Regions from separate parts of the Homo sapiens genome. Here region 1 is linked to region 2. Evidence: fine-mapped expression QTL. A gene starts in region 2. The other region holds a variant in brackets. All regions are shown on one strand. Distances are from middle to middle.

Evidence for each region. PIP is the estimated chance that this variant, and not a neighbour inherited with it, causes the effect.
Region 1: its variant is fine-mapped to the expression of ST6GALNAC2 in whole blood (TOPMed, PIP above 0.99).

The regions. Positions count from the first base shown.
Region 1 is chr17:76,560,239-76,562,955 of GRCh38, forward strand. SNHG16 (small nucleolar RNA host gene 16) reads left to right here. Exons shown (of 3, transcript NR_038111.1): 2 at 1,050-1,160. It overlaps SNORD1B (small nucleolar RNA, C/D box 1B), which reads left to right and starts at 870; the gene lies at 870-955. It overlaps SNORD1A (small nucleolar RNA, C/D box 1A), which reads left to right and starts at 1,395; the gene lies at 1,395-1,468. The variant A/G (reference allele first, on the strand shown) is at 1,264.
Region 2 is chr17:76,584,365-76,587,176 of GRCh38, forward strand. ST6GALNAC2 (ST6 N-acetylgalactosaminide alpha-2,6-sialyltransferase 2) reads right to left here and starts at 1,496. Exons shown (of 9, transcript NM_006456.3): 1 at 1,320-1,496. The coding sequence starts at 1,444. RefSeq lists silencers at 1,253-1,592, 1,643-1,932 and enhancers at 1,801-2,482, 2,483-2,812.

The DNA.
Region 1 (2,717 bases), 24 kb before region 2:
CATTCCTGGGCCTCACCTCCAGGCATGGGTGAGAATGGCTCTGGAGTGGAGTCCAGGAATCATGTGGCCAGTCCAAGAGCAAGTGGGTAGTAACTAGATCAGGGGTGTCAATCTTTTGGCTTCCCTGTGCCACATTGGAAGAATTGTCTTGGGTCACACATAAAATAAACTAACACTAATGATAGCTGATGAGCTAAAAAAAAAAAATCTCATAATATTTTGAGAAAGTTTACAAATTTGTTGGGCTGCATTCAAAGCCGTCCTAAAGTTTACAAATTTGTGTTGGGCTGCATTCAAAGCCGTCCTGAGCCACATGCAGGCTGTGGGTTAGACAAGCTTGAAGTAGATGATCTGATCTGTTTTTAGTGCAAGGATTTTATTATAGTGAGATTATAGTGCTGGCTATTTTTAAGTAGCTCTTGGGCAAATCTCTAATCCTCTGTCTTAAAAAACTGAAAGCCTGGAGGGCACGGTGGCTGACACCTGTAATCCCAGCACTTGGGGAGGCCGAGGCAGGTGGATCATCTGAGGTCGGGAGTTCGAGACCAGCCTGACCAACATGGAGAAACTCCGTCTCTACTAAAAATACAAAATTAGCCTGGCGTGGTGGCGCATGCTTGTAATCCCAACTTACTTGGGAGTCTGAGGCAGGAGAATCACTTGAACCCGGGAGGTGGAGGTTGCAGTGAGCCGAGATCGCGTCATTGCACTCCAGCCTGGGCAACAAGAGTGAAACTACTTTTCAAAAAAAGAAAGTCACATGCTTGCTCCACAAAGAATTTGCGTGAGGGAAGTGAACAATTTGATGAGAAAAAAATAGTTTGCGTGTGCTGTGGCTGTTAGTGCTATGGTCCAGCAGGTTGGTGGGAGCTGAGTCCATGATGATTTCAAGTTATCCCTGTCTGAAGGCAAAGAAAGGCCTTTCTGTGTGGAATTTGAATATCTGAAACTCAGTTTCCCAAGTTTGCCTTACAGAAATTTTAAGTTACTTGAGAGTTACTCTGTGTGTATCTTCTTAAGTAGTTTTTTTTCTTAATTTCTCTTCCCAGGTGCAGTCAGCCTCAGTTTCCAAAGCCGGAAAAGGATCCTCTAGTAGCCACGGTGTGGCAGCTGCTCTGAACCAGGACCTGGACCCGGACCCAAAGTGCCATGTCTTTAATGTGAGTAAGTAGACGAACTGGTAAACAGGCTTGGTTTGGTTTGGGGGAGTGGTAATCTTTTTTGCTTCCCCTGCTCTGGACTTAAAGCAATGGGGGCAGGGAG[A/G]CTTTAGTAGCATTTTGTTGCTAGGTGTCTGCAATAAGAGACGAAACTGAACTGCTTTGCCGGAAACAAGTGAAATGATTGCTTTCCTGTTTGTAAGATTTGTTTACATCTTTCGTATCCGTAAGAAGTCCCACAAGCCTATGATGGTTAGTTATCCCTGTCTGAAAATCTGGACTGAGGGAAATAATCTATTCTGAGGCTTAAGGGTTTGGCTCCATGGTTTTTTTTTTGTTTTTGTTTTTTTTCCCCTTTTTTTTTCCCTCAGCATATCCTGCTGAGAGCCCAGTCTAGAGCATCATTCCTCTAAAACGTGAAAAGCAAATGAGTGATTGTCCTGCTTTCTCTAGTCCTTTGATTATGGCTCTGAGGATACAGGCTGTATGAGGTGGCAGGAATGCACAAGTACCCAGGATTTGATTTATGCCCTTATTGTGGAATGAAAGTGCTTGTTACATATTTCAAGAAAATGAATGCGCTCTTAGAAACAGATTGGAATGTAGGATGTATGCCAGCTTGTGGCAATGAGAATGCTTAATGACTCTGACCTTGCCTCTGCTCCAGGGTCCTGACATTTAGGGGAAACCACGGCTGTTTGGTTTCTATGTGCTTTGTTAAGGACGCCAGGGAGGTCTCCTAAGTTTGTAGCTTAGATCCTGTCTGAATGTCACGACTGGCATGTGAGCAAGAAAGAAACCAAGTGGTGCTGGAGAGTGGGGTGCCCAGCTTTGTTCCCACTGGAATGCCAGGCTTGAAGTGCACACAGATTGCCTTTCTTTTCTGTTGAAAGGGGAGGTGTGGGCCGGGCGCGGTGGCTCACGCCTGTAATCCCAGCACTTTGGGAGGCCGAGGCGGGTGGATCATGAGGTCAGGAGATCGAGACCATCCTGGCTAACAAGGTGAAACCCCGTCTCTACTAAAAATACAAAAAAATTAGCCGGGCGCGGTGGCGGGCGCCTGTAGTCCCAGCTACTCGGGAGGCTGAGGCAGGAGAATGGCGTGAACCCGGGAAGCGGAGCTTGCAGTGAGCCGAGATTGCGCCACTGCAGTCCGCAGTCCTGCCTGGGTGACAGAGCGAGACTCCGTCTCAAAAAAAAAAAAAAAAAAAAGAAAGGGGAGGTGTGTGCAAACTCTTTGTATTTAAGGTTGTGTTTTTGCTGGACACCAAAGAAGCTGTATTCTGGGTGAGATTTAATGAGCCTAAAAACTGGCCCCAGTAGTTTACAGCCTGCAAGTAAAACAGTGAAAAGGGTAGCTTATCAAGTGGTTATTGTCTGCTGAGTGGACTTGACTACAGAACTCAAGTAAACCATAAGATTTGACTTGAAATGTTTCTATCCAGAGGGAGTGCTTTCTGATAGTTGTTTACTGGCCTCTTACCAGAAACTGCTCCCTCAGAGATACTGTCTCCTTAAAATGAGTCATCCTGGATCTCCACCAGCCTGCACCAAAATGGT
Region 2 (2,812 bases):
TTTGTATTTTTGGTAGAGACGAGGTTTCGCCATGTTGCCCAGGCTTATATCAAACATGTATTATTTCTTTGCATTGAGATACTTTGTGTTTTAAACATCTTTACATAAAAGTGACAAGGATTCCTTTTCTTTTGAGACAGGGTCTCTCTCTGTCAACCAGGCTGGAATGCAGTAGTGCAATCACAGCTCACAGCCTCGAATTCCTGGCCTCAAGCTATCCTCCCACCTCCGCCTCCCAGAGTGCTGGGACTACAGGCGTTAAGTCACCGTGGCGGGGCAAGCACCCTTTGTTCTAAGAGTGCTGGACTCCTGATCACTGGCAAGCTGTTTCACATTGTTCTGCAACTTTTGGTGTATCCTTTGACAGCATCTGTGGAGACCAGATACTTATTTTGTTTTCATCCCGTTAGCCCCCCAGCAAGGTTGGTAGGGGGTGCGCAGATGGAAAAGCTCCAGGAAGGGAAAGGCTGGGGCTGGAGGCCTCTCCCTGAGGCTGCCGGGCCCTTCCCTCCTCCCAAACCCAGACTTCGCACGGCTTGGTCCGCCTTTCTTAAGCTAAGCGAAATCGTTTTGCGGCTTCTTCAGTCACCGGAACCACCACCTGCTAGAGGCCGGCTCCCAGGTTCTCCTCGTGGGACACCCAGGAAAGTGCCTAGGGAGGAGGAGGGAGTGGAGCGCAGGACGCGGCGCGGGGAGGAGAACGCGGATGGAGCCAGGAGTCACCCCTCTTTCCCTCGGGCGCCCGCCTCTTCGCGGATCGCGCCCGCACTGGGCTTATCCAGACACGGCGAGCGGAAGCCGGGGAGAAGGGAGCGGGCGCGGGGCGGACAGAGACCGCAGCGGGCGGGAAAGGCGACTGGCCGCGGCCCGACGGAGGGTCCCCGCGAAGTTGGAAACCGGAGACTTGGGCCCCTGCCCAAAAAGCAGAATCTGACGTTACCGAGGGAGAGTTCCCGACAAAAAAGGAAGTTTTTATCTGCTTCGGGGACCCAGCCAGATTTCGACAATAGAAAGTGTACTTATCAGGCCGGGGAGGACTTCACCAACAAGGGGCACCGGGGCGGGTCGCCAGTGCACAGGGGCGAGGTCTTCCTTGGACCCAGGCAAAGGCCGCGGGGTCCGGGCAGCGCGAGGTCAAGGCTGGGAGAGGGTTCTGGCGACAAAGGGCCGCGGCCGAGTCCTCGCTGAGAGCTGCCCCAGAGGGGTCCACGCGGAGGTTGGGCTGAGGGCTGCGGGCCGCCGGGGAGCCCTGGGCTGGGGACCCTCCCCGCGCCCTGGTCGCCCCTGCGCCCTCCCGCTCTGCGCTCGGCAGCCCCTACCTGGCTCCGGCCGCTGGCCCCGGGTACCGCTGCACCGCCGAGAAGTACAGGGCAAAGAGGAGCCCCGAGCAGGCAGCCGTGAGCAGGAGCAGCAGCCAGAAGAACGACCCGCGCGGGAGCCCCATACAGCCCCGGCCCGCGAGCGCCCCGTCCGCTGACGTCCCAGGCAGAAGGGAGAGAACCGGGTGGGCCGGGTGGCACTTGCGGAGGCGGCCGTCTTGCCCTGCCCCGCCCTGCCCGCCGGGTGCCTGCGGCGCCTGCCCGCCCGGCAGCTCCCTCTCGGCCCCGGCTGAGTGGCCAGAGGCTGCCGCACCCTCGGGAGCTGGGCGGCGGGTCCCCCGGGGCTGGAGTGTCGTCCCGGCGCCCAGAGCGCGCGCTCCTTTGGCCCTGCCCCCTGCCCGGGGGACTTCGGCAGCGGCCACTCCTGCCACTGCGCTCTCTCCAGAGCCCAGCCCCGGGAGGCCGCCAGTCTCGGGTTGGGCAGGGCGCTTTCCTCGCGCCGTCCGGGGCTAGCTAGGCGCGGGTAGACGCCGCCACCTGCTGCGCTGGCTGCGCTCTGCCCTCTGCGGGCCCGGCACTCGGCCTCTAGACTCTGTGGCGGGTGGGCGGCGGCCGGGAGGAGATGTGCCCGGCTCCCTCCAAAGGACCCTCAGATCTGTCAGTCTGCGGACGCCAGGACAGCTGGGAGGGGGCGGGCAGGGTGGAGGAGCAAAACCCGACAGCTCAGTCTCTGGGCTGGCGGTAGAGGGGGGAAAAGGGGGTGAGGTGGGGAGCTTGCCGTGATGGGTTTCGTGGGGGAGCTAAGGCTGTCAGCGCTTATTTGGTAACCATCCAGGGTGGCCAGTCCCCTCAATCGCATTGAGTTCCTTTCACAGAACGAGGCCAGTCAGAGAGACCACCTGAAATGTTCAGCACAACGGGTTCCCAAACTTATTGGCACCAGGGACTGGTTTCCTGGAAGACAATTTTTCCACGGAGGGGGGTGGGGGTGGGGGGGTTGGGGATGAAACTGTTCCACCTCAGATCATCAGGCATGAGTTAAGATGCTCTCATAAGGAGCCCGCAACCTAGATCCCTGGCATGCGCATTTCACAAAAGGGTTCGCACTCCTTTGAGACTCTAATGCCGAGGCTGATCTGAAGGAGGCGGAGCTCAGGCGGTAATGCTCCTTCCCCCTCCACTCACCTCCTGCTGCGATGCCCTGTTCCTAACAGGTCTCGGACCAGGCTTGGGATTGGGGACCCCTGGTCTAGCAGGCTCCAGCATCAGAAAGGGCTGGGAAGCTCAGCACCCGTGCTCTCTAAGTGGAACACTCCCTGGCAGTGAGTGATGGATGAGATGGGTGTGCTTCAGTGGCCACTGTTCGGCAAGCTGTGACATGCGGCAGGCTGTGACATGCCCCAGACTCCCAACTGTCAGCAGGCTGCAAGGATGAGAGGGACCTAGGCTACCGTGTCACGGGCCTTTGGCTCTAATCTGTTCTTCATGTATCC